Linked DNA regions of Homo sapiens. The protein of the gene in region 1 interacts with the protein of each later gene in a biochemical or structural test. Each region holds a gene or a part of one and is shown in the gene's direction. Other genes may lie near its edges. The genes, in order: DOCK4, SIPA1L1, MAST4, MYO18A, RHPN2, MAST3 and PPP1R9A.

Region 1 (3,500 bases):
TGTTTTCCAGCCCTACTTAAATGGGCCCTAGTCCTCATTCTCCACTGCTGCCACTTGGTAGCCAGCATAGCCACCTCCTTCCTCCCCACACTCCTCACATTGAGCAGGGTCCTGATGGCCCCTGCAACTGCCTCACTTTAAAGGAAGGGAAAGAGAACACAAAGGAGGAGTGAGAGCTGGGATGGGGGTGGAGTGGGAAGTGAGGAGTGAATGGCAGGGGAAATGCACGAGGGATTATGAAAGAGAAGATGCCAGGGAGGGGAGGCCTCCTGAAGTGAGATGCAGGAAGTAGGAAGTAGGTAGGAGGGAAGCAGCAAACTGGGGAGAACAATAGAGCTTTGCCTTTGTCGCCCTGAGTCTCACTCTGTGGAAATATCTGATATGCCAAATATAACCAATCAGTTTTAAAAGGTTTCAGTCATACCCCAGGATGTCTGAATTACATCTGAATAGTCAACATTTTCAGGGTTTTTGGTTATGAAAACATCATAAATCTCTTTTTCAAAGTCAGTATTTTTAAAATCACTTTATTTTTCTCATTCTAATTCCTCCTCCTCCTCTTACCCGTGTTTGTTGCAGATAAACATTCCTGTTTGGTACTGAATTCCTTACTATTAATAGTAAATCCTTTGTGAGGTTTTTCTCTTGAATCTGGCTTTGGTGGAGCTTGCTTCTCTTTCTCCTTGAGATTCTTAATGCTTTTTCTCACTGGTGTTCTCTATATTCTCTTTTTCTTTCTCATCTTACCTACTTCCTTGGTTTGGGGGGTTTGGAGTTTTTGTTCCCTCATCATCTTTCTGTTTCTCAGAAAGTCCCTTTTGGGTTTCTGCTAAAACAAGTGATTTGAAGTAAATTTCCTGCTTCCCTGCCTGGAAATTCTGTCCTGGCTCCTCTCTCGGCCAGTCTAGTCTGGCAACTCCACTGAGCCCTGAGGCCAGTTCTACCAGGTCCCGCTGCCCTGCGCGTGCTCGGCACACGCGAGCCTTCAGTTCTCACTGCATTCATTGGCCTCCAGATGCCACCTCTCCCTGCATGCGTTGGAGACTAATAATGCATGGAGACCATCTCCCACAGCCTTTGTAACTTCTGCCCAAGAAAGATAAATTTATTCCCTCCCCAGGTGAAGAGGTTCTCTAAGGACCTGCTGGACCAAAGCCCTCATGTCTGTTTAGGAAAGGGTTAAAGAGCTGGGCCCTGTGCTTATCTGGACTCTGGGATGAAAGATGGCCTGTGGAGTCCAGGAGCTGCTCTTCTCAGGTTGAGAGCTCCCTGGATGATCTAAGAAATCACTGGGCCTGTTACCATTCTTTTAGTCTGCAAGATTTGGGTCACATTGCCAAGAAGACCTTTGTTCCTGGGTGGAGTTGGTTGCTAGGCAGAGTGCTATGTGCTGGGCACCCAAACGGGAATAAAGCAGGTTCCCAGCCCTCAAGAAACTCTCATCTTTCCAGGAGGAGGCAGAAAAATTAATCAACAAATATTTGTCACCTGCCTGATTTGTAAGGATTTGTAAGTGCTACTGTGATGTGGAAGCATGTAGAAGGGACAGTTAGCTCGAGATTTCAGGAAAGGCTTCCAAAATGAAGCAACATCCGATCTGAGGACTAAAGGATGGGTAGGAGTTTGTAAGTCAAGAGCAGTGGAGAGGAAACAGAATACAGTGAAATAAATGCCATCCTAGAGAGGGCTAGTCATAGTTTGTGGGAGCCTGCAACTTGAGTGGCTAGGAGAGGGGAGCCACATGTGTTAAGAATTTTACTTTTACTAGCAGAACGCTTTCATGTGAGGACCTGTTCTCTATTAAGGCAATTAATCTTCCTTTTCTATTTTGAAAGGTGATATGCTTGATCTTTTGAAATGGAGAACCCACCCAGACAAGATCACTGGCTGTCTCTCTAAATTAAAAGAAATTGATGGCTCAGAGATAGTAAAGGTATATAGTATTTCATTACTATTTTCCTTGCAGAGATTCATAGAATAAAGAACATTTGGAGGAAAAAGACAGATAGTATCTTATTTACTCATTTGCTACTTCTTTATCTAACAGTTTCTGCAGGATACACTGGATACCTTATTTGGAATTTTAGATGAAAATTCCCAAAAATATGGGTCTAAAGTGTTTGATTCTTTGGTAAGTTCAAATTCCCTTAATTGTATTTTAACTGTTTTGTCTCTCAATCTTGACTTTCATGAGGCTGGTTCAGAAACATGTGCTTAATAATGTAAGAGTTCATTTTAAAAAGAAGCAAAAAAAAAAGGAAAACCTTGATTTGCATTTAGTTTTATAAAGCTCAATTTTCTTTTTTTAGGTTCACATAATAAATTTGCTGCAAGATAGCAAATTTCATCATTTTAAACCTGTAATGGACACTTACATTGAGAGTCATTTTGCTGGGGCACTTGCATACAGGTAAGGCCCTGTATCTTGTAATTAGTTTAGAAGTGGTTCCTTTCAAGCTTTTCTCAGCAGAAGAGGCGATATAGGAAAATTTAAAAGGGAGTGTAGGAAGAAATGGAGCACTACTGAAGTGTCTCTTGAGATAGTCTCTTCCCTGCTAACACACCCTTTTTAAATGGGTAGAACTTATTTTGATTAAAAAGGGAAAAAAACCTCCTGAATTCTATTCCTGAGCCCTAAAATATAAAGTCTTTCCTTCTTGTCTCTGTTTCACTGGATATTCTTTGGTCTAAAATGTCTGGTTATCTCACTTCGGCTGTTAAGAGTCCCACTTCATCACTGTACTCCCTGATGATTATAAATGTTCATAAGAAAGAAATATGAATGGAAAACAACCTTTTCCTTCACACCTGCTGAAAGTCATCCATTCATTTATGTTAGGATTTACTGAGTGCCAGCTGCTTGCCAGGCACTGTACTTTATGCTGATGATGTGAAGACCTGGTCCCTGGCCTCAGGCAATTTAGTCATTGGGATCTACTCTTTGATAGGAGCTGCTATTTTAACTGCTCCTCCTTTTCTACTGGCTCAGGTGGTGCTGAAAAGTTATGAATAATATTATGCTTTGGCTAGTGCCTGCCTCCTCTCAACATAGTTGATAATTGCCAGAGGCCACAGCTTCTCTCTTTTAGTTCGACAAATAACTGCTTAAATAGCCTTGGAGTGTACCCCATCGTCTGTCTCCCAGTCCAATATGGTCCTTGCTGTTCTCCCATATTTCTACCTTATACCTTAAGCACCTGTGGGCATGCACATGCCTGACTGTTCCCTGAGGTGAGTTTAAAAAGCATGAAATCAGGTTGATATCCTTCCCCCATCTATGTAATATATAAAGGTTAATAGGTTATCAGATAAGCATTTGATCCTGTTTACTTGGATATTCCCAGCCATGACAGGTTAAGATCGACGTCTCCAACATCGAAATGAATGAAGGTATTTTTGTTAGACTTGACACTTCATCAGTGTGATTTTTTGCTGAGAGTGAAATGCAACCGCAGGAATAGTTTTGAAACATCGGCCCACTCAGCCTAACAATTTGGGCC
Region 2 (2,617 bases), on another chromosome or scaffold:
GAAAGCCAATTGAAGTAAATGGCACAGATAAACTGGGGCTTGCCATTGAGGACTTCTCTGAACAAGTCTGCAAGGAAGTGCTCTCAACGAGAAGGCACAAGAATAGGGGATCATTTGTTATGAGTATAGGAGAGAGGCCGCACTTACCTCTGGCACTGCTGGGGTGAGGAGAGCAGCAATCAGGCTGACTGCTGAGAACTTTAAAAATGCATATCCCAGAAGCAAGCCCCAAATGTGCCTCGTTAGGAAGGAGCCTCCAACAGAGAGAAGTGTGAGTGAGCCAAGACTGTTTTCCTGTGAAAGGATTATTAAAAAATCAGCAGATGAGGGTGATGACAGGCTCTTTTCTTGGGTCAGCATGGACTGAACAAATGGAAATGGAGGTGAATAGACAGAATGCTCCTGAGCGTTGCTGCAGTCCTGATGAGCTGCAGTGGCTTTGCGAAGGATACCACTGCTGCCCGGCCCCAGCCTCGTTGTGTCTGTCCAGCACCGCCCCTTTTCTACCACATCCGTGGCCTTCAGCCCACCCAAAATCGGACCAGCCTGCCGTACCATACTATGCGGTTATGGACTGCAGCTGACCATGTCCCTTCTCAAACCCATTCATTGTCAGCTTTTCATTGGCCTTCCTGCCTTAGAGATTGGAGGTCATGGTCACTCCATCAGCCCACAGCCTTGCCACACTGTACACCACGGTGGGTTTTGCCTCCTGGGGCCTCTTGTAGACTTAGGATTAGCAGAAGACATCAACACAGTTCATCTGAGGTCAGGAATTGTAACTTGAATCTTTATTTTTAAAGTAAAGAATACCTTTTACTCCGTGACCTAGAAAATTCGGAGTCACTTAGCTCTTTCCCATTGGCGCTGGGAAGAGGCTCTGCATGTTTTCCCGATGGAAGACTTTGGGTTCTCTGTGGTGTGCCCCTGAGGATGTATAGCTTGGCTAGGAATCAGGAAAATTTGGCAGCTTGAACTCAGGTAGAGGAGAGTGTGGCAAGAAAAGTTGTCAGTTCCTCAGCCATAGGACCCTCGGGGTGAGAGCGTGCCCAGCCATGCCGTCTGTCTAGCTCGCTGGCTGGCCTGCCGTACCCCAGCTCACACTTCTTTCGGTACTCCACTAGCACGGCATGATTAGCGTGCCATAAACAAAAGAAAACATGAGAAAATGAGAAGAAAATGGTTTTTTGATCAGACTGGGACAGAATTTAAGACATTAAGCCTAGGCTAACAAGATACTTAGACCAGTGGTTTAAGATGTAGGCATGATACCTTAGCTGCAATTGCATGAGTAGCTAAGACCACACACTTGGGACCAGAGACGACCTGCCTATCACATCAGCTCCCCAGCTTCCTTCCCACACACAGGGGAGTAACTCCTCTGTCAAAGCCCACTAGAGAGATCCCAGAGCCTCCCTGGGAATCATTTTACTGTTTGACAATTATATCTGCCAGAAAGTACCTCTTGTGCTGCCAAAGAGACCATTTTCACTATTGTGCTTCATTCTTTAGTCGTGAGGATGCAGCATCTTTAACAAAGGAAGCTATTGATTGGCTGCAGTTCAAGCTTTTATTACCTTTTTTTAAGACTACCATTTTCTTTTTTAAAGTAAAAATACTCATTGGGTCGCCATACTGAGTAATTTGACATTGAAAACCATTTTATAAATACAGCCTCCTCAGAGTAAAAAAAAAAAAAAAAAAAAAAAAACAAACCCAGCCATGGAGGCCCCTGCCAACATGGTCTTTTGTTTCTTGTTCCCAGCAGTAAAGACTCCTCTCCCACTCTGGCTTCTAAAGTGGACCAGCTGGAAGGTATGCTGAAGATGCTTCGGGAAGATTTGAAGAAGGTAAACATGTATTCTCAAAGCAAATTGTCCAGTCTGTACAAACTACCCTTGAACCATGAGAGCCCTTTCTAAGTAGCATGGTAAAATAAGACGTGGGTGTCTTCCCGGTGCCTGCATGTGTTTGGGGATGCAGGGATTTCAGTTGCCACTGGAACACACAGCATGAGGAGGCGTTCGGTGTCCGGTGTACAGAAAAACTGTTCAATAATTTGTGAAAGGCTGTGAACCTCAGCCAGCACCATCTGGGTCCTCTCCCGGCCTCCCCACTCCTTGTGTAATGTGTCAGTAGCCCAGACCCCCATGTAGTCGGTGTTATTGGGGCTTTTGCACCAAAAGAACTGAATGTTTTGTTTTTTGGGTGGCCTTGACTATATATCAAGACATCAGCCACCAACACAATTGTCTAAAATTTAAGACAATCCTGACTAACAAGGATGTTAAAATACACATTAATGTACTTACATTCCAGGATTACTTAGAGCTAATCCTGCAGGGTTGAATCTCTCTAGAAGCCCTGCTCCCTGAGCTTAGAGTGTCTTAGCACCTGATACCAGTCCGTTTAGACAGGTGTTTGGAGGAACGAAGAATAGAAATGGACAAAAGATCAAAACGGGTCCATAGCTATTACTCAGAAGAGCTGGGCAAGGTGGGGCCAACACCTCTTAGCTTTTCTACTTCACTCTGCCTCCCAGGAAAAAGAAGACAAAGCTCACCTTCAGGCGGAGGTGCAGCACCTGCGAGAGGACAACCTGAGGCTACAGGAGGAG
Region 3 (3,500 bases), on another chromosome or scaffold:
AAACAGTGCCATAGCAACTGCTGTTAGCAACATCAAATCTCCTACTGATAAATTATCAGAAAAACTTGTGGGGCTTTGGTTGTAGAATGAAAAAGTATGATTTTCATGTCTGTATTTCTTTGCTGATATGTTCTCAAAATTGTTGTTAAAAACTGATGTTTGCCTTTGCTTAGTGGGGATAGTTTAACACTTTCCTCTCTGTCTCTACCTGCCCCCTTCCAGGTGGTGCATATGAAGTCAAACAGCATCGATTCTTCCGTTCTTTAGACTGGAACAGTTTGCTGAGACAGAAGGCAGAATTTATTCCCCAACTGGAATCTGAGGATGACACAAGTTATTTTGATAGTATGTGCTTTATCTGACATAAAACATTGTTTGGCCTTTACTCGATAAATAATTATCTTTGCTTTTGAACCTTTTCATATCTCTGAGTTCTTAAACATAATGTTGATCCAGAAAATCATAATTAAAATATCTAAATGTTGAAAATCTGAGTAATTGGACCTGTTCCCAAACATTTCACTGCAGCTCGGTCTGAGAAGTATCATCATATGGAAACGGAGGAAGAAGATGACACAAATGATGAAGACTTTAATGTGGAAATAAGGCAGTTTTCTTCATGTTCACACAGGTTTTCAAAAGTAAGTGAAATGTGGCATAAACATACAGAGTCTCTCTGGGAGGATCTCCCGCTGGCCAGATAGTATCCCCGAACAGCTGGACACTTACCGTTTTCCAGGGTTTGAGGTCTCCTATGCTTAAACTTCCTTTTGTTGAAGAAAAGTGACCTCCTCAACTTATAGTCTGTCCCTATCCCCTAGGCCTTTAGACTGCCATTTTACCTTCTCTCTTTCCTGTGAGACAACAGAGATTCAGATAGCTGAGACCTTGGGCTTACCTGAGCTCTGATCCCCTTCAGGAACCCCGGCACCAATATATTTCTCTCTCCACAAATTAAGATATTGTTTTCTTAGAGGCATAGCCTTGCACCCACAGTCTTGTTTTTGGAGTGTGTGACTGCTACTTATATGATGACCTTGCCTTGAACGTCTCTCACCTGGCTCAATGCCAGGCTGCAGAGGTATCACTCATTGCTTTCAACTCAGGATGAAGAGCGCGAGCTTCACTGTGTACAGAGTCATCTCCGAGGGATTACACAGAGTACAACAAAAGGAGAAGGCTCAGTCCTTGACATAAGCAAAGATACCTGCGGACAGTTGACTGTAGGATTGTAAAGTCTCATAACTGCCAGGCATAGTGGCTCACGCCTCTAATCTCAGCACTTAGAGAGGCAGAGGCAAGAAGATAGCGTAAGCCCAGCAGTTCAAGACCAGCCCGGGCAATATAGTGAGACCCCGTTCTCCACAAAAAGGAAAAAAAAAGCCAAAAAAAAAAAAAAGTCTTGTAACCAATAAACAGAAATTATAAGCCATATTGAAAAGGCAGTAGGAAGCCAAGCTAGAATCATTTAGATAATTGATGCTTGAGAAAGATGCCTTTTTACCAGTACAGTAAAAGTTAAAAAAAACAATTAATCAAAACAAAGAAAACTGATAGTACTGAGACAGAACAAGGCCCTAGGAAAAACGGAAATCAACCTGAGGGCACCCTACCTCCCTTTTGCTATTTTCAGTAGCTATATATTTTCTGTTGCCATGGCATTTTGCATGATTATTGTTTAGCTTTTCTATAACATTTAGTGATTTTAAAGTGCTCCGTAGCTTTTTCTAAATGATTACCTAGATGCACCTGCAAATTGGCCAGCACTACCCTCCTGTGTATGGGAATGGCATCGAGGTAAGGATTTCCCTGGAGAAGGTGGTAGCCAGTCTGTCCTAGAGCCAGGACAGAAGCTTTGCTAAGTGTGGACTCAGACCAGGACTGTTCTCTGGGCCATCAAAGACAACAATGCCAACCCCTAAACACTGCTTCCTTCTTTGCCTTGGTGGGTATTTCATTTTCCCACCATCTCCTTTTCTGTAGCCACTTTCCTGCTATTCCTAGTAGATTATAGGAGGCCTGAGGACCATTCCCATGAGAGCAGCAAGTGTCTGAGCAGGGCAGTAGGGAGCGCTTCCTGCCCTAGGCTCTTAGACCCCCATTTTACCTTCTCTCTTATGAGACAACAGAGATTCACAGATAGCTGAGACCTTGGGCTTACCTGAGCTCCGATCCCCTTCAGGAACCCCGGCACCAACATAGGAAACTGCCTGTCTATAGATGTGATTTGTAAGCGAAACAAATACCTCTGGCTCTTATAACGGAATATGTACTGCATCCTTGCCACACCACCACCCAGTCTTGAAACAGATAATTTATTCTTCTGTTTGCACTCAATTCCAATTCATTTTTCTTCTTCCCACCCCTGACTGGTGGCCATTAAATCTGTTTCTCTGTTATTTTCTTTTTCCAGTTGACTTCATGGTTAAAAAGTAATCAAGATGTGCATTGATCCCAAGGCCTAGAAACTCCACTGCATCTGTGGATTTTGTTTGCAGATACAAAGTCCGCAACAAGATATGATGAGAGGATGATGAATTCATAGCTCCCTATTCGTATATATGTACACACACACACACACACACACACACACACTCACTCACCCTGACCCTTCCTCTCTGGATTCTGGTTAACAACACTGGAAAGTACTTTCTGAATACACAATATTAGTTCAGAATTTAGTTATCCTCTCAGGTTTTTCTCCCAAGACTTGGAGTGTTTTTCTGACAAACTCTTTTTAGTAGATATTAATAAGCACCAATTATTTGCCTTCCAGGTTTTCAGCAGTATAGATCGAATCACTCAGAATTCAGCAGAAGAGAAGGAAGACTCTGTGGACAAAACCAAAAGCACCACCTTGCCATCCACAGAAACACTGAGCTGGAGTTCAGAATATTCTGAAATGTATGTGAAATGCCTCTTAAGTAATATAAGCAGTAGCTACTAGAGCAGAGTTTCTTAAACTTTAGTGAGCATCAGAATACCTGGGGGGCTTGTTAAAACACAGATCTCCCACTTCCAGAGTTTCTCATCCAGTAGATCTAGGGTAGGGCCTGAAAATGTGCATTTCTGACAAGTATCTAGATTATGCAGATGTTGCTGCTGTGGGTACCACACATTAAGAACCATTGCACTAGACATCTCTTGGTTAGGCTTATCCAAGTCCGATTTTCACCTGGTTTCTTCCAAAATTCACCTTTAACACAGTTTTCTAGTATGTATATATGACTTTGTTTTTGCTTTTAATTAAGGCAACAGCTATCAACATCCAACTCTTCAGATACTGAAAGCAACAGACATAAACTCAGTTCTGGCCTACTTCCCAAACTGGCTATTTCAACAGAGGGAGAGCAAGATGAAGCTGCCTCCTGCCCTGGAGACCCCCATGAGGAGCCAGGAAAGCCAGCCCTTCCTCCTGAAGAGTGTGCCCAGGAGGAGCCTGAGGTCACCACCCCAGCCAGCACCATCAGCAGCTCCACCCTGTCAGGTAAGCCCCGGGC
Region 4 (3,500 bases), on another chromosome or scaffold:
TCAGGAGGCTAAGACAGGAGGATCACTTGAGCCCAGGAGTTCAAGTCTGTAGTGATCTATGATTGAGCCACCAAACTCCAGCCTGGGTGACAAAGCAAGACCTTGTCTCTTAAAAAAATTTTTTTTTTTCACAGATACCACTGACTTGACCTCTGAAAATACATTAGTTGGTGCAAAAGTAATTGAGGTTTTTGCCATTAAAAAGTAACGGCAGGCCGGGTGCGGTGGCTCACGCCTGTAATCCCAGCACTTTGGGAGCCGAGGCGGGCGGATCACGAGGTCAGGAGATCGAGACCATCCTGGGTAACATGGTGAAACCCCGTCTCTACTAAAAATACAAAAAATTAGCCAGGCGCGGTGGCGGGCGCCTGTAGTACCAGCTACTCGGGAGGCTGAGGCAGGAGAATGGCGTGAACCCGGGAGGCGGAGCTTGCAGTGAGCAGAGATCGTGCCACTGCACTCTGGCCTGGTGAAAGAGCAAGACTGCGTCTCAAAAAAAAAAAAAAGGGCCGGGCGCAGTGGCTCAAGCCTGTAATCCCAGCACTTTGGAAGGCCGAGGCAGGCAGATCACCTGAGGTCAGGAGTTCAAGACCAGCCTGACCAACATGGAGAAACCCCGTCTCTACTAAAAATACAAAATTAGCCGGTCATGGTGGCGCATGCCTGTAATTCCAGCTACTCAGGAGGCTGAGGCAGGAGAATTGCTTGAACCCGGGAGGCGGATTGCAGTGAGCTGAAATCGGGCCATTGCACTCCAGCCTGGGCAACAAGAGCGAAACTCCGTCTCAAAAAAAAAAAAAGTAACGGCAAAAACCATAATTACTTTTGCACCAACCTACCAATTTGTGTTTCCACCAAGACTTATGAGACTCCCTGCATCCCATGCCCTAATTGATTGATATTATCAACCTTGATAGTTTTTACTAAACTGCTAATTGAAAATAGTATACCTCAATTTCACATGTCTGTGAATGTTATGGAGGCTGAATACCTGTTCATGTTTGATGGCCATTTGTATTTCTGCCCCTACAAATTGCCTGTCCATAGTATCCTTGGCACTAGCTACGTGGGCCCTCTGGACTCAAGCCAGTGTGATCCAGCTTGGCCTTGTGCTTATCAAGTTACCTTCACTTCTTTGGGCTTTACTTTCCATGTACAAAGGTTTTGACTTATTTTAGTCATACTTGTGTACTCTGTTATCCTCTCTACTGTGTCATTTAGACTGCAAAAACTGTGCCCTGCTACTATTAGGTACCTCTCTGAGGGTAATTAAATATATTTCATTTAATTCCCCCACCTTAGGTGGTAGGTACCATTATTATCTCCATTTTTATAGATGGGGAAATGGAGGCATGGAGGCCTTAAGTGATTTGCCTGAGATTTCATAGCTATTTACTCATATTTTTTTTCATTTTTATTTAATTTTTTTTTTTTTAGACAGAGTCTTGTTCTGTCGCCCAGGCTGGAGTGCAGTGGCATGATCTCGGCTCACTGCAACCTCTGCCTCCCAGGTTTCAGCGATTCTCCTGCCTCAGCCTCCTGAGTAGCTGGGATTACAGGCGCATGCCACCATGCCCAGCTATTTTTAGTAGAGACAAGGTTTCACCGTGTTGACCAGGCTGGTTTCGAACACCTGATCTCAGGTGATCTGCCCTCCTCGGCCTTCCAAAGTGCTAGGATTACAGGCGTGAGCCATTGCGCCCGGCCCTGTTTACTCAGATTTGTTCACAGGTTTGTTACTTGATATCCAAAGCCTGAGCTCTGACACTGGGCTTACTTATCTTTATGTTGCTTGCCTTTAGGAAGTGGCTGATAGATACATATTTTTTCCCAAAATTTTATCACAATGACCTGCAAACATTCAGAAAAGTTAAAGAATTTTGCAACGAATACCCTCCATTTCCTAGATTCTACAATTAACATTTTCCTATCCTTGCTTTTACACATCTGTATCCCTTGATCCATCCATCAGGCTATGGTTTTTTTTTTTTTTCTTTCTTTCTTTTGAGACAGGGTCTTACTCTGTTACCCAGGCTGGAATGCAATGGCATGATCGTGGCTCAATGTAGCCTCGACCTCCCAGGCTCAGGTGATCTTCCCACTTTAGCCTCCCAAGTAGCTCCCACAGGCATGCACCACCACATCCAGATAATTTTTTGTATTTTGAGTAGAGACAGGGCTTTGCCATGTTGCCCAGGCTTGTCTCCGACTCCTGAGCTCAAGCGATCTGCCCGTCTCGGCCTCCCAAAGTGTTGGGATTATAGATGTGAGCCACCTTGCCCAACCTCATCAAGCTGTCTTAAAATTTTACACATCTCAAAGTAAAACGTAGACATCAGTATATTTCGCCCCAAATACTTTAACATACATATCATTCACTAGAGTTCAATATTTGTTTATAGTTCTTTTCTTTTGAGTGGATATTTACAAACAATGAATGCACAAATCTTTTTTTTTTTGAGATGGGGTCTTGCTCTGTCTCCCAGGCTAGAGTGCAGTGGCGCAATCATCTTGGCTCACTGCAACCTCCGCCTCCCAGGTTCAAGCGATTCTCCTGCCTCAGCCTCCCTAGTAGCTGGGACTACAGGTGTGTGCTGCCACGCCCGGCTAATTTTTTTTATTTTTATTAGAGACGGGGTTTCAGGATGGTCTCGATCTCTTGGCCTCATGATCCACCTGCCTTGGCCTCCCAAAGTGCTGGTATTACAGGCGTGAGCCAACGCGCCTGGCTGAACGCACAAATCTTATGTGCACCATTTGATAACTTGACAAGTGCATATACTTATCAACCCAAACCGCTATCAATATACAGGACATGAATATCACCCCAAAAAGTTCCCTCATGCGATCCCACTCCTACCCCCACCATAGGTTAGTTTTGCCTGCACTAGAACTTCATATAAAGAGAATCATACCCATATGTGCTCTTTGTCAAAGACTTCTTTCCCTCTCACTTGACATCATGATTTTGAAGTCCATCCCCATTGTGTGTATCTTTAGTTGTTTCTTTTTTCTTGCTGAGTAGTATTCCATTGCATGAATATGAGCATTGTTTATGCACTCTGATGGACAGATAGATGTATATTTGAGGTTGATGGTCATTGCCTTCGGGATGCTTACTCTCTTAAAGTGATAGAGCAGCTGAGTTGACAGATTGTACTTTCTTTTTGTTTTTGGGGATAGTAAGAGCAAGATTATTCGGGTCCATACCCTAACTTACATAGATGCCTTCCTTTTCTTAAAATTAGGAAAAACTTCTTAGAGTATGATGAGGAGAGAAACGCAGAAAAGGAGGTCAGGAAAATTATAAGGTTACCTTTACTGGAGTGGAGGGAGAGGGTAGGAGAGGAATGGGAGGCAGATGGAAACTGCAGCCCGGGATAGGGGGTAGGAAGGTAGTGGTATCAGAGCTGTTGGAGACTTTGGACCTGAGGCCAGGAGGTGCCGGAAAGTGCAAGGTCTACAAGAAGGCCATGGAGCAGCAGTCGCATTGCAGATCT
Region 5 (3,500 bases), on another chromosome or scaffold:
AAACTACATAAATTAAGAAAATAAATTCCCCCACTTTGAAAATCACTATAAGTTTTTCTTTATTCTGCCTTTTTAAAAATGGGTTCACAATTGACATATTACTATTATGCACACATATGGTTTTCAGCCACACTTTATAACATCTGACCTCATTTTTCTTTAAGGATTTTATCCTGGAACATTACAGTGAAGATGGCTATTTATATGAAGATGAAATTGCAGATCTTATGGATCTGAGACAAGTAAGTTTTTGTGTGCAGCAGAGAGGGGAGGGTGGCTTTTCCGAGTCTTCAGGGAACCCCATTATTGCACGCTTGTGGTCTTAACAGAATCGCGGGTGGATAGAGGTGATGGTTGGGGGGTGCTGGAATCATCCATTCCACTTGCTGCATAAGAAAACTGTAGAAGGAGGCCAGGCGCGGTGGTTCATGCCTGTGTAATCCCAGCACTTTGGGGTGTGGAGGTGGGCGGATCACCTGAGGTCAGGAGTTCCAGACCATCCTGGCCAACATGGTGAAACCCTGTCTCTACTAAAAATACAAAAATTAGCTGGGCGTGGTGGTGCATGCTGGTAATTCCAGCACTTTGGGAGGCTGAAGCGGGTGGAACACCTGAGGTCAGAAGTTTGAGACCAGACTGGCCAACATGGCAAAACCCTGTTTCTACTAAAAATACAAAAACAAGCCAGGCATGGTGCTACACGCCTGTAATCCCAGCTACTCGGGAGGCTGAGGCAGGAGAATCACTTGAACCTGGTAGGTGGAAGTTACAGTGAGCCAAGATCGCACCACTGCACTCCAGCTTGGGTGGGTGACAGCAAGACTCTGTCTCAAAAAAAAAAAAAAAAAAAGAAGGAAAACCATAGAAGGGGAGAGCCCTGCCTCAGGGCTGGGACTGGATTCCAGGATTTCTGACTTCCTCCCAGGTTCTTTCCACCCCTCCCAGAGTTTACGATGCCAGTAGCGAGGTCATCATACTGCAGAAATAGTTACAGGCACCTGCTGGTATGTGCAGGGCACCTTCTGGGAAGGGCCATCAGCTGTGTCCTCCTCTGCTCATGCCCTCTTGGGTTCTTTTCCTTGCAGGCTTGTCGGACGCCTAGCCGGGATGAGGCCGGGGTGGAACTGCTGATGACATACTTCATCCAGCTGGGCTTTGTCGAGAGTCGATTCTTCCCGCCCACACGGCAGATGGGACTCCTGTTCACCTGGTAGGTGCTTGAGGTCTGCGCTGGCGCTTCACGTGTTATGGCAGCCACAATTTTGGAGCCTCAGCATCACAGACGCCCCTCTGCGGGTGCCCCTGTGCACCTCAGCCCCCTTTCCTATCTTGCATTTATCTGGGGAAGTCTCAAAAGATGTCAATACATTGGTATTTATTTATGAAGGTGATCCGAGGGGAGATGGCTCCAACAGACTGTGGCCTCTTGCTTCTCAGAACAAGCGAGCCAAGGAGAAGAGACATTTTTCTTGCTCGTTGTATCACTGGGGAAGCACGGGGGCTCTGAAGTGGAATTAGCCAGAAGCGAGATTCTTATCTCAGATTGGACAGGGGCATGCATGTGTATGTGTGAGTGAGAGAGAGAGAGAAAATCAGGTCTTATCCAGTGAGGCAAAAGCACCAAACAGAAATAGATCAGGTTTCTTTTGAAATGGGGTCTCACTGTGTTGCCCAGGCTAGTCTTGAATTCCTAGGCTCAGGTGATATTTCTGCTTCAGCCTCCTGAATAGCTGGGACTATAGGCATGAGCTACTCACTCAGCTTAGATCAGATTTAAAAAAAGGAAGTAGAGCATTTGATTCTTCTCCACAATTGGTATTTTCAGACAAGATCAGGCACGTCAGGGTGGTATGGCCGTAGACCCAATTGGTATTTTCAAAGGTTAGTATAGTTTAAATACTTGGGAGGCCGGGTACAGTGGCTCACACCTGTAATGCCAACACTTTGGGAGGCCGAGGCAGGCAGATCACTTGAGCCCAGGAGTTTGAGACCAGCCTGGACAATGTGGCAAAACCCCATATCTACAAACAATACAAAAATTTGCTGGGTATGATGGTATGCACCTGTTAGTCCCAGCTACTTGTGAGGCTGAGGCAGGAGAATCACTTGAGCCCGGGAGGCGGAGGTTGCAGTGAACCGAGATCACACCACCGTACTCCAGCCTGGATGATAGGAGTGAAACCCTTTTTCAAACAAGAAAAAAAAAGGCTGGGCGTGGTGGTTCACACCTGTAATCCCAGCACTTTGGGAGGCCAAGGCAGGCAGATCACGAGGTCAGGAGTTCGAGACCAGCCTGTCCAATATGGTGAAACCCTGCTTCTAGTAAAAAGTACAAAAATTAGCAAGGCATAGTTGCGCGTGCCTTGTAGTCGCAGCTACTTGGGAGGCTGAGACAGGAGAATCGCCTGAACCCGGGAGGCAGAGGTTGCAATGAGCCAAGATCACACCACTGCACTCCAGCCTGGGTGACAGAGTGAGACTCTGTGTCAAAAAAAAAAAAAAACAACCTAAAAAAAAGTACTTTGGAGATGCTGCACCCCTTCTCTGAGTGTCGTTAGGAGTGTCAGTGAAAGGAGAACACATCCTAGAAGATCAGGGGCATATCAGAATTCAATGTTTCTACAGCTGATGGGTGGCTACTAATGCCTTCCTCATGGAAAGCAAAGGAAAGGGGGATGACTTTTCCTAACAATGCACCAGGCTGTCTGCATGGCCGAAAAGGCGAAAGGTGGTTTCTCCTTAGTCATGAATTAGGGAGAAGCTGTCTGCACACCCCCTGGTTCATGAGTAAACTTTAAAACAAGTCCTAGGGCCAGGTGCGGTGGCTCACGCCTGTAATCCTAGCATTTTGGGAGGCCGAGGTGGGTGGATCACCTGAGGTCAGGAGTTCAAGACCATCCTGACCAACACGGCGAAACCCTGTCTCTACTAAAAATACAAAAATTAGCTGGGCATGGTGGTGGGTGCCTGTAATCCCAGCTACTTGGGAGGTTGAGGCAGGAGAATTACTTGAATCCGGGAAGTGGAGGCTGCAGTGAGCTGAGATGGCGCCACTGCAGTCTAGCCTGGGCGAAAGAGCAAAACTCTGTCTCAAAAAATAAAAAATAAAAAAAATAAAAATAAAACAAGTCCTAGGCTGGGTGTGGTGGCTCATATCTGTAATCCCAGCAGGTTGGGAGGCCAAGGTGGGTGGATCGCTTGAGCCCAGGAGCTTGAGACCAGTCTAGGCAACACAGTGAGACCCTATCTCTACAAAACAATTAGAGAAAATTTGCCGGTCATGGGTGGTGCATGCCTGTAGTCCCACCTACTTGGGAGGCTCAGATGGGAGGATCTCTTAAGCCCAGGAGGTTGAGGCTGCAGTGAGTCATGATCATGCCACCGCACTCCAGCCTAGGCAACAGAGTGAGACTTTGTCTGAAAAAATAAAAAGTAAAACAAATTAAAACAAATCCTGAGTTTTTAGATTTCAGAAAGAATTATGAGGGGTTAGTAATTGC
Region 6 (3,500 bases), on another chromosome or scaffold:
CTACAGGCGTGCACCACGGCACCCGGCTAATTTTTTAAGCAATTTTTTGTAGGCCAGGTGCAGTGACTTACACCTGTAATCCCAACACTTTGGGAAGCCGAGGCAGGTGGATTACCTGAGGTCAGGAGTTCAAGACCAGCCTGGTCAACATGGCAAAACCCCATCTCTACTAAAACTCCAAAAATTTAGCCGGGCATAGTGGTGCACGCCTGTAATCCCAGCTACTTGGGAGGCTTAGGCACGAGAATTGCTTGACCCTGGGAGGCGGAGGTTACAGTGAGCCAAGATCGTGCCACTGCACTCCGGCCGGGGTGACAGAGCGAGACTCTGTCTCAAAAAAAAAAAACAAAACAAAAAACAAAAAATTGCAGAGATGGGGTCTCCTTATGTTGCCCGCCCTGGTCTCGAACTCCTGGCCTCAAACAATCCTCCTGTCTCAGCCTCCCAAAGTGCTGGAATTATAGGTGTCAGCCACTGCACCCAGCCTGGAAGCTGGGTTTTAAAAGTTGAATAGGAAGCCGGGTGCAGTGGCTCACGCCTGTAATCCCAGCACTTTGGGACCCCAAGGCAGGCAGGTCACTTGAGCTCAGGAATTCAAGACCAGTCTGGCCAACATGGTGTAACCCCGTCTCTACTAAAAATACAAAAATTAGCCCAGTGTGGCGGCAGGCACCCATAATCCCAGCTACTTGGGAGGCTGAGGCAGGAGACTCACTTGAGCCCTGGAGGCAGTGGTTGTAGTGAGCTGAGATTGCACCACTGCACTTCAGCCTGGGTGACAGAGTGAGACCCTGTCTTTAAAAAAAAAGGTGAATAAGCGGTCTCCAGGTGGACAGAGAGGACAGTGCAGACAGAAGGAACTCGTCCTGTCTATGCAAATTACCCTTGACTGCAGACTGAGAGTTAAGATGTGGCCATGAAGGTGGCTGAGTATCCTGGGGTGCAGGTGCCTGGCAGGGGTGATGCAGGCTCTTCCTCCCTGCAGGCTGAGGTCCTGGACATCCTCTGGATCCTCCTGTCAGTCATCTTCGTCCCAGCCCGAGCGGGGTCCCAGCCCATCTCTCCTGAATACCATCAGCCTGGACACAATGCCCAAGTTTGCCTTCTCATCAGAGGATGAGGGGGTAGGCCCAGGCCCTGCAGGCCCCAAGAGGCCCGTCTTCATTCTAGGGGAGCCTGACCCCCCACCAGCGGCCACCCCAGTGATGCCCAAGCCCTCGAGCCTTTCTGGTAAGTGGGGCCCTGAGTAAGAGGGATGATGTCATGGAAGTTTCCCAGAGGAGGGGCTATTTGAGATGGGTTTTCAAGGATGAGTAGGAGTTCTCCAGAGCCAACAAAGGCTTTAAGAGAGGAGAAGCCAGGGTCCCAGAGAGACCCCCAGCCCCCAAGGAACCCCAGTCTAGGGTAAATGCCCCCAGCTTCATAGAGTCAGGATGGGACCCCTAGCTCCCAAGATGGGGGAACTAAGGGTCTAAATGGGTGTGGAGGAAGGCTTCCTGGAGGAGGGGACTTGAAGACTTTTGCATAGAGAATAATTTGGGAAGGGAGTGCAGGAAGAGGGAACTGCATGAGCAAAGGCCAGGAGGCTGGACTGTGTAAATAGTGACCAGGGAGGAAGGGCCTTAAGGTCCCTTTAGGACCACATGGTGAGTTTGAGGGGCACCCAGCTGACCCTGCTGACCCTCTAGCCGACACAGCTGCTCTCAGCCACGCCCGCCTACGGAGCAATAGCATCGGCGCCCGACACTCCACACCAAGGCCTCTGGATGCCGGCCGGGGCCGCCGCCTTGGGGGCCCAAGAGACCCAGCCCCTGAGAAGTCCAGAGCCTCCTCCAGCGGTGGCAGTGGTGGCGGCAGTGGGGGCCGCGTGCCCAAGTCAGCCTCTGTCTCTGCCCTGTCCCTCATCATCACGGCAGGTAATGCCCAAGGCCCCTCTCACCTTTGTCTGTCTGCACCCATTTTCACCAACAGGGTGGGGGCCCTTCCTGAGTTGGGGAGGCTGGGGATGAGCCCCAGAAGAGGGGAGGAGGAGTAGGACACATGGAGAGCTGGGGAGATGGTGTTCCCAGTAGAGGGCACTGCACGTGCAAAGGCCTGGTGGGGTGACCATGCTTGGGACATTGAAGCAACAGCAAAGTGGCCAGGGTGGTCGTTGTGGTGGGAAAGAGGGGGCCCCAGGGGAGACCTGTGAGGGAGTGAGTGACCCCCTCCCTAACCCCCTGCAGATGATGGCAGCGGCGGCCCCCTCATGAGCCCCCTTTCCCCGCGCTCTCTGTCCTCGAACCCGTCGTCCCGTGACTCTTCGCCGAGCCGAGACCCGTCCCCCGTGTGTGGCAGCCTGCGGCCCCCCATCGTTATCCACAGCTCTGGCAAGAAGTACGGCTTCAGCCTGCGGGCGATCCGCGTCTACATGGGTGATAGCGACGTCTACACTGTGCACCACGTCGTCTGGGTGAGTGCCGAGTGGGAATGGCAGGGACCCGGGTTCTAGTTTGACTCTGCCCGGTCATGTCCCTTCTCAGAGCTGCATTTTGGAGCCTGGCAGGGTTAGGTAGATAGAGCTGGTGCCACCGAGTTCATCTCGGTCCCTGTCATTTGGCAGGGAGGAGGTCAGATGAGAGAGACAAGGATGGATGGATGGAAGCTCACAGATCCCAAGTGGCATTAACCTCCCAGCTCCATATGGGGACGCACTGGGCATGTTATCCTCCCTCTCCCAGCCCAAGGGCGTCGAGGCATGCCCTCCCTATTGGTTGCTCCCTGAACAGACACAGAAGGCTTTCTGGAGAAGGGGGCGTAGGAGCTGGGGCTTTGATGGGTGAGTAGGAGTTCCCCCAGGATCAGGGAAACTGAGACAGCACAAGAGGCAGCAGCTTGCTGGGGTCCCACAGCAGACCCAGCCTGGGCTGGGGTCCCCAGATGTGGGGCCCAGGCCATTGACCCCACCGTTCTCGTCTGCCCCCAGAGTGTGGAGGACGGAAGCCCCGCCCAGGAGGCGGGCCTGCGGGCTGGGGACCTCATCACCCACATCAACGGGGAGTCAGTGCTGGGGCTGGTGCACATGGACGTCGTGGAGCTGCTGCTGAAGGTGCGGCACCCCCACTGCCCACCCTCAGGGCTCCCCAGCACCCCTTGGCCGCAGCTCCCGGTTCCCCGTGGTTCTCCGCGTCCAGACACACAACCCCACATTCAATGTCAACTCCAGGCCTGGCACATCCACTTCCTTCGGCCCAGAATACATGTCCTTCTTCAGCCCCCAACATCACCCCTTAGAGCTGCTCCTCCAGGAAGCCCTCCCTTCTCCCTGGGCACCCTCACATCTGTTCCTCCCTCTGGCCTGAGGCCTGGAGGTAGGAGATGGGCTCAAGACAGGAGGAAGGGCCGGGCGCGGTGGCACACGCCTGTAATCCCAGCACTTTGGGAGGCCGAGGCAGGATGATCACCTGAGCTCAGGACTTTGAGACCAGCCTGGGCAACAGAGCGAGACCCCCATCTCTGCA
Region 7 (3,500 bases), about 17 Mb from region 1:
AATGGAGTGTGCAGCAGGTTTCTCACTGGTTAATGAGCCTAAATCTGGAGCAGTATGTATCTGAATTCAGTGCCCAAAACATCACTGGAGAACAGCTCCTGCAGTTGGATGGAAATAAACTTAAGGTAAAGAATTATATGTCTGTCTTAGGTTACCAGGTATAATTTGTATTACTCATATCACCTAAAATGTTTTCATTAGGTAAGAGCATTCTGCATATCTGAGAGGTAATTCTCATCAATATTCAGCAGAAAGGATGTTGAATTCTTTCTGAGTAGTAAATGAAGTCTCAGAAAGTCCATCAGGGGTTCCAAATCAAATGGTAGGCTGCTGATTAGGAGAGTGAGGGACCCACTCCATTGCTTCCACCTGGCAACACATGGTCCATATATTAACTCTCCTTACATCTGATGTAGTATGAGTTTTAATAATGGCCACTGTGGACTTTTTCATCACATTAGAATTAAGACCCAGATCCACGAGTCTTCTTTTCCTTGTTCATTTCTCCTTCACCTCCACTCTTCCTTACACACCACTCCCAAACTGGGATGATGTTCTCCCCAGAAGTTTTTTCCCCAAATATGTACACACATCTTCCCTCCCCTCCATGGCACTTTCATTTCCACTTGTCCAGTCCATCTCTCTTAGAGACCAAGGTGGCATCCATCCCTTTGGGAAAGGGAAAAAGGTGCTTACAGCCAACTCCATGTACCCCCAAGCCCCACCCCCGCCTCAGCCCCCTGCTGGGCTGACGGGCAGACGAGTATCTCTTGACAATCTTGAAAAGGTTAGAGATCAATCAATAGCTTGTGAATATGAAGGCCTCATTGACAAGGCTGTCCCTGTTGGGGAGATAGATAGATGCATCCTGCTGTTGATTCTGAAGGTCACGAAACATTTAAAGTACATAAGCAACTCCCCTTATTCTGAATTCTAAGTTCATCGAGCAACCTCCTCATTATAATCAACTTCCTTTATAGGTCTGCCTACAGGGAAAGAATGGCTAGTCATGCTGACACGAGCATTCTGGCCCCAAAGACATTTTTGGTTCTCATTGTAATGAAAACATTGGCAGAAAGGAAGCCATTTCAATTCTTCTTGCCCTTCTTGGAGCCCTCTGTGACAGCAGGTGCTCACTCCTATGCTTTGAAAATATTGATGAGTTTAGCAATACCTTTACCCGTAAATGCCTACAGCCCAAAGGTTGGAGAAGTAGAATTGTGCCCTTTTTCCATTCATTCACCCATTAATTACTCATTTGGAAAGCATTTAATTAATGAGCTTTAGGGTATACTTTGCAAGGGACTTCAAAGAACAAAAGAAAAAATAAAGGGTAGCCCCCAGTGTGTTGGTTTTTAGCAAATGTAACTAGTTCTTCCTCTGTTCTTACCTCTTCAATGTTTGAATTAGTTTACGAACTTGGATATATGGTATGTTAACACCATCAGAGGGCTCATTGGTTTTCAAATTCAGTTTGTGTGTGTGTTTCTTTCTTAGGCTCTTGGAATGACAGCATCCCAGGACCGAGCAGTGGTCAAAAAGAAACTCAAGGAAATGAAGATGTCTCTAGAGAAGGCTCGGAAGGCCCAAGAGAAAATGGAAAAACAAAGAGAAAAGCTAAGGAGAAAGGAGCAAGAGCAAATGCAGAGGAAGTCCAAAAAGACAGAAAAGATGACGTCAACTACAGCCGAGGGTGCTGGTGAGCAGTAACACATACCCTCTTACAGATGATGGAGATGCTCCAAGAGAAGTCCCCACCTCTTCCTGCCCTGCTCTCCTCCAGAGGATGAAAAAGAAACTAAATGATAAGGGTAATGCGGCTCTAGGCCGGCTGAGGAACTGTGTGTTGAATAACTGCATTTTCTGCAATAGAATGCACTCTTAATTTTAACTACTAAAATAATCCCAAGCCACCTTTGGTTCATTAACAAACCAGAGATTTCATTTAAGTAGCTGTGTTTTGCTCTTCTCTAACTTACCAACATCTTGTGTTGTGTTGGGTGTGTTTTGTCACTTGGAGAACTAGTGTGACCCCACCCAAGAGCATGACACACCCTGGTGTTGTTAATGGAGCGCCGTGAATTTTCAGTGTGGGATCCTGAAATGGCAATTGCACATGTCTGCATGGCAGAGAGCACCCTGCCATGAGATCTGAGACCAGTACTTAACTTCTAGGACTGCAACACCTACTCCAATGTGTGGGAAAGATTTGCTCTTAATTCTCAGTCTGGACAGTGAGACCACCCCGCTGTGGAAACATGGGTGCTCTGCTCTGTAGTTACCTACTAAGGGAAAAGGCAAGCAAGTCATTCTGCTTGCTAGGCATCAAAAAGAAAGAAAATAAATTATAGCTATTTGTTAACCACTGAAAAAAGCAAAAGCCTTAAGAATGTGGATGTGGGTATTACCTTGGGGTTCTGAGGGTAATATTTATCCTCTAGATACGGCTGAACAAGAAAGAAAAAAATCAGACATTAATGCAGCCATGGGATATTGGGATCTGTTGACCTTGCTACTGCTGTGTGTTCAGCATTTCAGCAACACTGGCAAACACAACACAGTTCCTCTTCCCCCTACCTAACCCAAGAAATTGAACAGGAAATTGATTTTTAAGGAAACCACCATTTTCAGGTTTCCTCTCCTGGGGAACATTCTGGCTGGTCTTCAGCCTGCCTATGTCACAATCAGGAACTCATCACATATTTTCTACTCAAGATTTCCCAGGTGGGCTCAGTTAGTATTTTAACAAATGTACTTTTAAGAAAAATAGAAATACCAGTTAGAGGAAACTGTCAGTTAACATTTTAGAGAGATTTTGAATGGTTTTTCCGAACCATTCCTTTCCATACTTCAAAGATTCTCAATTTTACAGAAAAAGTTTGTTTAAGGCAGTGCATAGGTATACTTTAGTAGTGGAGGAACTTATACTAATTTTAAGCCAGCATTAAGGATTTCCATGTTTCACCAAACTAAGTCAAGTGCAGGAGACTGGGGCAGAAGAAGGAGAAAATAAACTCGTTTTGAGAAATTTCATGTGATGAGGGTTTTTTGTTTTTTATGCTCATGTATCTGGTTCTCTTTGCTGCGTTGACTCTAAAAATGAGGTTATCCACTTTCCAAAGGACAAGTTTCAGAATAAGACTTGAGGCCACATGAATTCTTGGACAGTATTTTACTTCTTTTACTTTATGGGAATCTCTGCTCTGTTCCCAGCATCTCGTATCTTCCACTAGAAGTATTCCATATTTAGAGCCTCGGCAAGGCTTTTGAGTGTAACAGATTAAGGGAACTCCCTTGTAGCCCCATCTTGTATTTTAATAACAGTGTGATTTTTTTTTATCTGAAAATCTGAATTCAGAAATTATCTAAACTGGACATTTTTAATTCTGTTTTACCCCCAAGGCCTGTTTTCTTTTCATTGCCAGAGTATTGTCGGTTATGCGTCAGCTCTTTTGTCATTAGGTACAGACCCTTCATTCAATCCTCAGAAACGTTGACAT

The links.
Region 2: the proteins of DOCK4 (region 1) and SIPA1L1 interact in a test that uses a peptide from one of them, tested with the Homo sapiens proteins (one large-scale study listed by IntAct).
Region 3: the proteins of DOCK4 (region 1) and MAST4 interact in a test that uses a peptide from one of them, tested with the Homo sapiens proteins (one large-scale study listed by IntAct).
Region 4: the proteins of DOCK4 (region 1) and MYO18A interact in a test that uses a peptide from one of them, tested with the Homo sapiens proteins (one large-scale study listed by IntAct).
Region 5: the proteins of DOCK4 (region 1) and RHPN2 interact in a test that uses a peptide from one of them, tested with the Homo sapiens proteins (one large-scale study listed by IntAct).
Region 6: the proteins of DOCK4 (region 1) and MAST3 interact in a test that uses a peptide from one of them, tested with the Homo sapiens proteins (one large-scale study listed by IntAct).
Region 7: the proteins of DOCK4 (region 1) and PPP1R9A interact in a test that uses a peptide from one of them, tested with the Homo sapiens proteins (one large-scale study listed by IntAct).

Annotation. Positions count from the first base shown.
Region 1 is NC_000007.14:111,870,900-111,874,399, reverse strand, and holds part of DOCK4 (dedicator of cytokinesis protein 4), read left to right. Parts: intron 1-1,835; coding exon 1,836-1,933; intron 1,934-2,047; coding exon 2,048-2,131; intron 2,132-2,309; coding exon 2,310-2,410; intron 2,411-3,500. UniProt on the Homo sapiens protein: Functions as a guanine nucleotide exchange factor (GEF) that promotes the exchange of GDP to GTP, converting inactive GDP-bound small GTPases into their active GTP-bound form. Involved in regulation of adherens junction between cells.
Region 2 is NC_000014.9:71,736,476-71,739,092, forward strand, and holds part of SIPA1L1 (signal-induced proliferation-associated 1-like protein 1), read left to right. Parts: intron 1-147; exon of another isoform or gene 148-294; intron 295-1,765; coding exon 1,766-1,850; intron 1,851-2,542; coding exon 2,543-2,617.
Region 3 is NC_000005.10:67,141,893-67,145,392, forward strand, and holds part of MAST4 (microtubule-associated serine/threonine-protein kinase 4), read left to right. Parts: intron 1-222; coding exon 223-345; intron 346-528; coding exon 529-641; intron 642-2,776; coding exon 2,777-2,904; intron 2,905-3,251; coding exon 3,252-3,487; intron 3,488-3,500.
Region 4 is NC_000017.11:29,170,399-29,173,898, reverse strand, and holds part of MYO18A (unconventional myosin-XVIIIa), read left to right. Parts: intron 1-3,500.
Region 5 is NC_000019.10:33,009,389-33,012,888, reverse strand, and holds part of RHPN2 (rhophilin-2), read left to right. Parts: intron 1-164; coding exon 165-242; intron 243-1,085; coding exon 1,086-1,210; intron 1,211-3,500. UniProt on the Homo sapiens protein: Binds specifically to GTP-Rho. May function in a Rho pathway to limit stress fiber formation and/or increase the turnover of F-actin structures in the absence of high levels of RhoA activity.
Region 6 is NC_000019.10:18,142,778-18,146,277, forward strand, and holds part of MAST3 (microtubule-associated serine/threonine-protein kinase 3), read left to right. Parts: intron 1-883; exon of another isoform or gene 884-985; coding exon 986-1,230; intron 1,231-1,688; coding exon 1,689-1,916; intron 1,917-2,225; coding exon 2,226-2,452; intron 2,453-2,965; coding exon 2,966-3,088; intron 3,089-3,500.
Region 7 is NC_000007.14:95,288,594-95,292,093, forward strand, and holds part of PPP1R9A (neurabin-1), read left to right. Parts: coding exon 1-125; intron 126-1,497; coding exon 1,498-1,710; 3' UTR 1,711-3,500. UniProt on the Homo sapiens protein: Binds to actin filaments (F-actin) and shows cross-linking activity. Binds along the sides of the F-actin. May be involved in neurite formation. Inhibits protein phosphatase 1-alpha activity.